Linked DNA regions of Homo sapiens: region 2 is linked to region 1. A link means that fine-mapping ties the variant in region 1 to the plasma level of a protein whose gene starts in the linked region. Region 1 holds a variant in brackets. A gene starts in the other region. All regions are shown on their reverse strands.

The links. PIP is the chance, under the fine-mapping model, that this variant and not a neighbour inherited with it causes the effect. Protein levels are from antibody-based Olink assays in UK Biobank. Linkage for the fine-mapping came from a reference panel and not from the study's own genotypes, which makes the PIPs less certain.
Region 2: TFPI starts here. The variant in region 1 is fine-mapped to the plasma level of the TFPI protein (UK Biobank, PIP above 0.99).

The regions. Positions count from the first base shown.
Region 1 is chr1:169,496,111-169,501,500 of GRCh38, reverse strand. No RefSeq gene overlaps it. Among named protein-coding and RNA genes, the nearest start is that of SLC19A2, 13 kb to the right of the region's middle. The variant C/T (reference allele first, on the strand shown) is at 3,085.
Region 2 is chr2:187,551,284-187,556,673 of GRCh38, reverse strand. It overlaps TFPI (tissue factor pathway inhibitor), which reads left to right and starts at 2,239. Exons shown (of 8, transcript NM_006287.6): 1 at 2,239-2,474.

The sequences.
Region 1 (5,390 bases):
AGCCGACTTGATTGTGGTGGATAAGCTTTTCGATGTGCTGCTGGATTCAGTTTGCCAGTATTTTACTGAGGATTTTCACATCGACATTCATCAGGGATATTGGTCTAAAATTCTCTTTTTTTTGTTGTGTCTCTGCCAGGCTTTGGTATCAGGATGATGTTTGCCTCATAAAATGAGTTAGGGAGGATTCTCTCTTTTTCTATTGATTGAAACAGTTTCAGAAGGAGTGGTACCACCTCCTCCTTGTACCTCTGGTGAATTTGGCTTTGAATCTGTCTGGTTCTGGACATATTTTGGTTGGTAGGCTATTAATTATTGCCTCAATTTCAGAGCCTATTATTGGTCTATTCAGAGATTCAGCTTCTTCCTGGTTTAGTCTTGGGAGGGTGTATGTGTCCAGGAATTTATCCATTTCTTCTAGATTTTCTAGTTTATTTGTATAGAGGTGTTTATAGTATTCTCTGATGGTAGTTTGTATTTCTGTGGGATCAGTGGTGATATCCCCTTTATCATTTTTATTGCGTCTATTTGATTCTTCTCTATTTTCTTCTTTATTAGTCTTGCTAGTGGTCTATCAATTTTGTTGATCTTTTCAAAAAACCAGCTCCTAGATTCATTGATTTTTTGAAGGGTTTTTTTGTGTCTCTATCTCTTTCAGGTCTGCTCTGATCTTAGTTATTTCTTGCCTTCCGCTAGCTTTTGAATGTGTTTGCTCTTGTTTCTCCAGTTCTTTTAATTGTGATGTTAGGGTGTCGATTTTAGATTTTTCCTCTTTCTCTTGTGGGCATTTAGTGCTATAACTTTCACTCTAAACACTGCTTTAAATGTGTCCCAGAGATTCTGGTATGTTGTGTCTTTGTTCTCATTGGTTTCAAAGAACATCTTTATTTCTGCCTTCATTTCGTTATTTACCCAGCAGTCATTCAGGAGCAAGTTGTTCAGTTTCCATGTAGTTGCATGGTTTTGAGTGAGTTTCTTAATCCTGAATTCTAATTTGATTGCACTGTGGTCTGAGAGACAGTTTGTTGTGATTTCTGTTCTTTTACATTTGCTGAGGAGTGCTTTACTTCCAATTATGTGGTCAATTTTAGAATAAGTGCAATGTGGTGCTGAAAAGAATGTATATTCTGTTGATTTGGGGTGGAAAATTCTATAGATGTCTATTAGGTCTGCTTGTTGCAGAGCTGAGTTCAGGTCCTGGATATCCTTGTTAACCTTCTGAGTCAGGACAAATATCCTTACAGTCAATTCATTTATTGATTGCCTATTAAGTGCTAGGTACTGTTCAGGTACTGAAGATAACAAAACAGACAAAATTCCTACTTGAATGGAGTTTATTCACAAGTTGAAAGAAAGAGACAATAAACCATAATAAAAATATATAAGATATTAGATAATAAGTCCTATGGCAAAAATAAATCAATAGCAGGAGCTGAATATTTGTAGTGGGGAGGAAGTCAACATTAAAAAGGATGGTCAGGGGAGGCCCTAGCTTGATGTTTGAGCAAAGAGCAGAGGAAGTGAGGAAGTAAATACCACAGACATATAGGAAAAAAAAAAACTTAGAAAGCAGAAAGAACCATGAATAAACATTTTGTAGTAAAAATATGCAGGTAGTGATCCAGGATTGACAAGGAGAACCAGGTGGCTGAAGCCAAATGAGCAAGGGGGAGAGCAGAAGTTGAGATCAAAGAATAAAATGGGTGGGGAAAGGTGGAGAGAGACAGAGGGTGGGGAATAGAGTGGCTATTTAGGTCTAGCAGCCCTTGGGCTCATTTGCTGAATGAGATGGGAAGTTATTGGACAGTATTGAACGGAGAAGAATATCATCTGACTTGTGCTTTAAAAGAATCTTTGTGACAGCTATAACAAGAAGAGACTATAGGGGATCAAGGATGTTAGCAGGAAGTCCAATTTAGCTGCAATTACAGATATTCATATCAACTGTGGTAGCAATAAAAATGGTGAGAGTGGTGGAATTCCGGCCATATTTTGAAGGCAAAGTCAATAGGATTTGCTAATGAATTAAGCAGTATGCAATGTAATAGTTGTCTCCCAAGACTATGGGTAAGAACACTACCCACTGAAACACTGGCAGTGCTTTTTAAAAGCCCAGTGTTGGGCCAGGCATTGTGGCTCATGCCTGTAATCCTAGCACTTTGGGAGGCCGAGGCAGTGGATCACCTGAAGTCAGGACTTCGAGACCAGCCTGGCCAACATTGTGAAACCCCATCTCTACTAAAAAATACAAAAATTAGCCAGGCATGGTGGCAGGCACCTATAATCCCAGCTACTCAGGAGGCTGAGGCAGGAGAATCACTTGAACCCTGGGGGCGGAGGTTGCAGTGAGCAGAGATTGCACCACTTCACTCTAGCCTGGGCAACAAAGTGAAACTCCATCTCAAAAAAAAAAAAAAAAAAAAGCTTAGTGTTGTCAAAATTATTCTTTCTTTTCTATCCATTATTAACAAATTAACTTTGCATTCCACTGTATGTGAAGAGCTGATTTCTGTGAGCACAACATGAACTTTGTTATCTGATATGATTAGGCTTTGTGTACCCACCCAAATCTCATCTTGAATTATATTCCCCAGCTGTTGAGAAGAGGCCTGGTGGGAGGTGACTGAATCATATGGGTGATTTTCCCCAGTGCTATTCTCATGATAGTGAGAGGGTTCTCACAAGATCTGATGGTTTTATAAATGGCAGTTTCCCCTGGACTTCTCTCTCTCTCTCTCACCTGCTGCCATGTGAGATGTGCCTGCTTCCCCTTCTGCCATGATTGTAAGTTTCCTGAGGCCTCCCCAGCCACGTGCAATGTGTCAATTAAATCTTTCCTTTAAAAATTACTCAGTCTTCAGTTGTATCTTTATAGCAGTGTGAAAACTAATACATCATCCTTCAGAATATGTCCTCCATGGAATGTTAAATCCAACTAGCAAGAAACTCCCTGTGCATCTCAGCTCGTGTGAACTCCCACCCCACCCACTCTCACATTTCATGGAGATACCCAGCTCTCTCAGTCCCTTCATTACATGATACCTCTGGGTCCCCTCATGGCTTCCCTTCCTTCTCTAAGCAGCA[C/T]ACACCCATGGTTCATCAACAATACTTACAAACCCTGGGGAAAACTCTTGTCTCCAGCCTTCTGCTCCTCATTCTTACCCCCTGAGAAGCCCCCAACCTTGAATTAGTCTAGCACTCACACTCTCCGTGCTACACCCAGGCTGTAACATATACACAGACCTAGCTGGGCAATTTCTATTCACATTCCTTGTCAGTCGCTCCCCACATATGCTATTTAAACTTTCATATTCTAAGGTAGAACCTGTCTCATCCTTGTTTACCTTTTTTTCAGCAAGTACCTTGCCTCTTATCACATAGGAGAAATAGATAACATTAGGGAATGTTTTCAATGTCATCTCCTACCCCCTCCTAGTGCCTATTTATCTACATTTTCATCCACCTTAACTCCTTCCCTGGGGAGCCTGAGGCCGTTACAGGAAAGGGGTCCCAATCCAGACCCCAAGAAAGGGTTCTTGGATCTTGTGCAAGAAAGAATTCAGGGTGAGTCCTCAGTGCAAAGAGAAAGCAAGTTTATTAAGGAAGTAAAGTGGTGGAAGAACAGCTATTCTATAGACAGAGTAGGACATTCCTGAAAGTAAGAGGAGGAACACACTCACCCTAGGTACAATGCTTGTATTATATGGGGAGATGTGTTCTGCTACTAGGGTTTGTGATGAAGGATGAATTTTCTTAATTACTATATTTTTCAAGAATTGATACTACTGTCTTTAAAGCAAAATTAGGAATGCCTTTATTCTCCAGATATCGGGATACCCGGACACTCCTAAATCTGGGTGTGTTTAGTAAACATTATTAATTTGTCCCCTTAACCATAAACATCTAAGAGCTAGGATTGCCTAACTTTTTTAGAATGCAGCCCAGCAAGTCTCAGCCTCATTTTCCTAGCCCTCACTCAAAATGGAGTCATTCTGGTTTGACCACCTGACAGGGTGAATTTTCCTTTCTTAGTCAGGTCACACCTTATATTTCTGTTTTGGATCCCAGTACCTCCATACCTCAGGGACTTGTTTCATATGTGTGATTACATATGTTTGTCAAAACTTATCAAATATATATTTAATATATACTTAAAATGGGTGATATTGGACAAAAATTATACCTCAATAAAGTTGTTTAAGGAAAATTTGGTATACTCTGGATCTCTTCTTTTTCCTCTGCTCATGAATATGCTCTAGTCTCTGACAAAATAAACAAAAGCCAAATTTGAAAACGTAACTGGCATTTGCTGCCTGCACAGTATTTAAAGAGCTCCTACTTTGTGCAAGGATCTTTCCTAAGTACTTGGAAGCTGGCCCACTATGGTACTTAGATAATAATAGATCTCCTTTTTTTAAAGATTAATTTTGTGCTAGGTACTATGGAGAACATTTATCATATATAATCTTATTTAATCCTCCCAACTACCCCAAGAAGTGGATATTATTATCTCCATTTTACATGAGAAAACTGAGCCTTAGAAGGGAATGATACCTTGTCCTAGGCTGCCAAAAGTTATAATGGTGGCTAGGTCCTAAACCTAGGTCAGCCTGATGTATCCCACCATTAAGCTCTTTATATGCTAAGCCAGGTGATGAGGTTTTAGATAGGGTGGGAGTGGGGAGGTAAGATATCAGAATATTCAGATGCTCACAAGTTTCATTAATTTCTCTTTCTTGTACAAAGTCCCTGTCCTCACTGATGGGTACATATCAAAGTATCCTTTGGAGAATAAAGAACTGAGGTTCAGAGTTCTTGGTGGACCTCCCAGACACAAATTCTTGAATCTGTAGATCTTCTCTTGTATTTCACATTAGGAAGAGCTTCTGCTATGGAATGCCAATGGAAAGCTAAAGAAGAAGAGGTTAGAAATTAAACTGATATGAGTTATATGCAAAAGCATGAATGTAGACCTCTCCTGAAAGGATGTTCATACTGTAATACAGATAGGTCTTTTTCACCCTGTGGTTCATGACAGACTCTAAAGATGGTTTCACCTAAAGATCTCTACACCACAATAGAAGAACTTGGCTAACTATAAGGATGGAATGCTTCATCTATAGCTAAACGGAATGTTATAATACCTGTAAATGAGCTGCAAAAAAGCATTAGTGAAGGTTGAAAGTATAATTCATGAGGACTCAGAAATGTGTCCACCAAACACTTACTGGACAACTCTTATATTTAAAACACCACAGGAGACACCAGGAAAGATAAAGACCACACTTAGTTTCTAATCACAAAAATCCCTACAGTTAGTGGGAGAGGAAGTCATGTATATAAAAACCAGAAATTATTTACCAGGCAGGATGTGACAAGCATGCACACAC
Region 2 (5,390 bases), not on the chromosome of region 1:
GGGGCGGCTGCCGGGCGGAGGGTCTCCTCACTTCCCAGACGGGGCCGCCGGGCAGAGACGCTCCTCACCTCCCAGACGGGGTCGCGGCGGGGTAGAGGCGCTCCTCACATCCCAGACGGGGCGGCGGGGCAGAGGCGCTCCCCACATCTCAGACGATGGGCGGCTGGGCAGAGAGGCTCCTCACTTCCTAGATGGGATGGCGGCCGGGAAGAGGCGCTCCTCACTTCCTAGATGGGATGGCGGCCAGGCAGAGACACTCCTCACTTTCCAGACTGGGCAGCCAGGCAGAGGGGCTCCTCACATCCCAGACAATGGGCGGCCAGGCAGAGACGCTCCTCACTTCCCAGGCGGGGTGGCGGCCGGGCAGAGGCTGCAATCTCTGCACTTTGGGAGGCCAAGGGAGGCGGCTGGGAGGTGGAGGTTGTAGCGAGCTGAGATCACGCCACTGCACTCCAGTCTGGGCGCCATTGAGCACTGAGTGAACCAGACTCCGTCTGCAATCCCGGCACCTCAGGAGGCCGAGGCTGGTGGATCACTCGCGGTTAGGAGCTGGAGACCAGCCCGGCCAACACAGCGAATCCCCGTCTCCACCAAAAAAATACGAAAACCAGTCAGGCGTGGCGGCGCGCCTGCAATTGCAGGCACTCAGCAGGCTGAGGCAGGAGAATCAGGCAGGGAGGTTGCAGTGAGCTGAGATGGCAGCAGTACAGTCTAGCTTCTGCTCGGCATCAGAGGGAGACTGTGGAAAGAGAGGGAGAGGGAGACCGTGAGAGGGAGAGGGAGAGGGAGACGGAGAGGGAGAGGGAGAGGGAGAGGGAGAGGGAGGAGAGGCGAAACTTTCAAGAAAGAAAATCTGATTGGCTGAGCTTGCCTCTACCTGAGCTACAGATTCCTCAAAAGTTTAATCAAGGTCCATGGTGGTACCAAGAAAAAAGGACTTTCCTCTACAATCTGAGTGAGATGATAGCTTTGATTGTGGTTGAGGGGCAGGGCATGAGGTAATAGGAGATAAGTTATTAACATGATATGAAATCCAGAACATGAGTGAGAAGGCAGCATGGAGGAGGATTTATGCATTTTTGCTCTAAAGGCAGACTGCATGACATTAGAATCACAGCTCCACATACTGAACTCGATCTTCCTAGACATGTGAAATGGGCATACAAAGAGGACCTTCTTTATAAGCTAGTTGTGAGAATTAAATCGATAATTTATGTTCCAGTCACCACCAAATAATTATTCAATATGTATTAAAAACACTCAAGATGAAAGGTTACCTTTTACAGAGAGGTCTAAGGAAAGCAAGAAAAATTGAAGGCACAAAGAATCTGAGATGCAGAAGCAAGAAACTCCTACATTTTCTGACCAAATGTCTTCAGCCTTCCTGGCAAAGTAGATTCTGCCCATTTATTAGATCTCTAGTGATCTTAGTCTGATATGACCATAATTCCAATACAGAGACAGTACGGATGAACCTCAATGATAGGGACATACAGCAGAGACTCTGGTTGACATCTGTAAATATTTACATATTTTGTAGAATAATAATAATAGAAATACAGAAAACAGCGATAATGATAGCCAACAATTATTGGAGGTTTGCTACATGCTGGGTCCTGCCTTAAGTACTTTTTATGTATTAAGCCATTTAGTACTTACATCAAGCCCAGAAACTTTTATTATCGACATTTTAGGAACAAAGGAACTGAGGCATAGTGAATTCAAATAACTGGGCTGAGTAGCCAAGTTAGCAAGTAGCTAAGGTAGGGCTCAAAGCCTGACACCTGCAATAGATAATGCATTACATTGTCTCACTAAGAGAGACCTCCAACGGTAGCCCTCAGACTTTTAAAAAAAATAAATACATTGACAGTGGGTGAAACAAATGAAATAACTTGAAGAAGAAACAAACTGCAAAAAAGCTTATTAACAGTGTAATAATAAATATGTAATTTTTTAAACCCTAACTCTAGGGGGAAAAAAGCATTCTTTTTCAACTGATTACAAAAACAATCCTGGAAAGTAAAGGAAATAGCTATTCAAAATGATCGTATCTGAAATCTTGGTGTAAGCTGTTTCCTTCATCTGTTTCCTCCACTAAAAAAAAGAAAGAAAGAAAGAAAAAAGAGGTTTAGACTAAATAGAGTCAGAGTTGCAGTGACCTAAACAGGAAGTTGGGCTATTCCCAACTGCCAGTGATCTCTGAAGCCGACTCTGAGGCTCCCTCTTTGCTCTAACAGACAGCAGCGACTTTAGGCTGGATAATAGTCAAATTCTTACCTCGCTCTTTCACTGCTAGTAAGATCAGATTGCGTTTCTTTCAGTTACTCTTCAATCGCCAGTTTCTTGATCTGCTTCTAAAAGAAGAAGTAGAGAAGATAAATCCTGTCTTCAATACCTGGAAGGAAAAACAAAATAACCTCAACTCCGTTTTGAAAAAAACATTCCAAGAACTTTCATCAGAGATTTTACTTGTGAGTACCTGGCAATATACTGTCTAGCCCATAAGAAATAACTTTAATTTCTTTTTCTCGGGGGAAAAGCAGGGTGCTGAGAGGCAAAGAACTGATAGGGGAGGATCACTGTTTATTTGCGTAAAATGAAAATCAGCCCTTCCCTGTAAACAGAGTAAACTCAAACTGCAATCCAAACTTGAGTTCTCAGCATTTTGCATTTAGTTCTTAAGCAAATTTATGTGCAATTTTTATGATTTTAAACCATAAACATTTTTGTAACTAATTGGTGTATGTAGCTTTTTTATAATTTGAAGATTGTAGTAGAATTCTTTACTAATTGTGCTTGGTTAATTGGAAGTTCTTGAAAGTTCGGTTTACCTTTCCATTTTATTTCATAACATATAAAATAGAGACTGTTATTCTTCTATTCAAATAATCTTTCAATACTATTAGTTGATGATATTTAAAATGAGGTATAACCATTAAAATAATCGTAATCTAAATGGAATATTTTATGCCAGCATTAACTAATCTCTCTAAGGAAATATTTTACAATTCTCCAAAGACCAAAGGTCATATTCTGAGATACTTAAACGAGAATACTTACGATCAAGTCTATGTTGTGCAATTTTGTAAATTAAAACAATAGATAACATGCCTACATGATGTACTGTTATGTTCCTGTTATAAAATGTTTGCTTCTAGTGAAAAATGAAAGCATATAATACAGCAGTAAACAACCACAGAAATATAATGAGAGAAACAATTATTTAATTATGAAAAAGCACTCATTAGTATAAAATAATTACCAAAAATAAGGGCCAAGAGTACTACCATGTGGGAAAAAAGAAAAGATAAGCAACAGCCACACTGTGACTCAGTGCTCTGGAAATTAGTCACAAAATGACTTTGTATAACATGAGATAATATAAACACAAAGGGCAAAACTCAAGCAGGAAACATACTGCCCAGAGAGTCATATTTCATGTGTAAAAGCATAATATTTACATGAAAGGGGGAAAGTTGTGACAATTTTGAGAGATACTGCAAAACTTTTGAATAAAATGTGTTAGGGAGGCAAAATCTCCCTAACACATTTTAAAGATTATTTTAAATCTATCATTCTAGTGCATGATTATTTCAATATACAGTGTCCATATCTCATCTAATCCTTAAACTAAAGAGGGATAGTCCCTGAAATTTGGCTGAGTTTGAAATGTTAATTTGTGGCCTACAGCTTAATAAAATTATATGAAATATAATTAGGGATCAACAAAGATTGAAAAATATTAATGTAAATACAGATAACTAATCAAGTAATTTTAAAATAAGAGTAAAACTTTAAAATATTTATTTTTACTGATTTGAGTAGTTATATTGGAAAACCAAGTTTTTCTACTTCAAGTGACCACAGAATCTTGTTGGAAAAGTTTAATGACATATACTACTATTTGATTCCTATCTCTATTAGGTATACTGAATTGGACAAGTTTTTGTTTTGTTTTGTTTCTTTGTTTTTAAGGTACAGTCTGATATCTTTTGTTTTACCACCAATGACTAAATCAAAACTCCTTTGGAAATGTGGTTCCTGTCCAAATGGATTATGTTATCAACTGGTGTTTGATGGTCTGACTGATTGTCCATTTATCAGTCAGATAATCATTTAAGGAAATGATTATCATTTGCTTGTTGATTGTACAACTATTTTGACTTAAATCTTCTGTCATAAAACTTATTGTTAAATTAATAATACATAAAATGATAACATATTTTGTAATAAACTCTAATTTTCAAAACAGCTTAATTATCTTAAAAATTAATTTTCTAATCTTTAGAAATCTTTTGTTTACATCTTTCAAATTCAAGAGGTAAGTGGGCAGGATGGCAAACTAATGGAGAAAAAATGCCAACTTTAGAGACTTAATTTAATGCCAGAGTGCCTATCCATCTAACCAAATAGTAAATATGCTATCAATTCCTTAGGAATGGTTGGCTGATTAAATTCAGTGTCACAAAATTTTAAGGTATCTTTCAACTGATATCTCTACCTAATACAAGAAAAAAAATGCAAAGTAAACATCCTTACAAAAAATAAAAAGGAACAGACAATATGAAAAGTGAAGAAAATTACTTAGACTAGGATTTTCAAAAAAATCTTATCAGTATAAATTAATTAAATTGAATTATAATATAGGTTAAAATGGGTTAATTATATCATCAATTTATTTTTTTCTATGTGGACATGATCTAAGAATTGTACTACAATACAACTCATCTATTCTCAATAAAGGCCTTCTACAACCAGCCATCCTTTTTTGTTTACCATCTATAGCAATTAACTCATTTTAGGAATTAAATTTGGCAGGCTGCCTTTTTAAAACACAAATATATTTTCATGCATTAGTGTCAAAGGTAGATTCTGCTATCTTTTATAGAAATATAGCAGTACTATAATTCTTTCTGATTGCTACAATGTGCATTAGGAGAAACTTGAATTCAATAGACATGTGTTTCTGGATATCAAATCTCACCAGAAACAGGGAAGTGTTCAAGTGTTTCCAGCAAGTTCTCTTCATAATAGACCATCTTTCCTGGCTTTCTGAAATCCTCACTGACTGCTTTCTTGGTGTTATGTATCAATTCCGGGGGCCCAGTCTTCCCATTACCTTTCTCTCCCTGTCTTCACTTCTCCAAGTGTCAGGTGCCAAGTAGAACCACAGCCTGAGATTCAACTACCAGTAGCTACCAGTTGCTGAAGGCAACTTCTTCACCTCTACTTTTCTTCTTCCTCAAACCGACAATAACAGAAAGTATGGGCCCATGTCAAATCCACTGTTTTCTCTTTAAGCCTCTATTTGGGATGCTATGTCCTCTCTTAGTTGGAACAACCAGGTGTTAAAATTACTTCAAAAACAAAAGAATATAAGGACATCA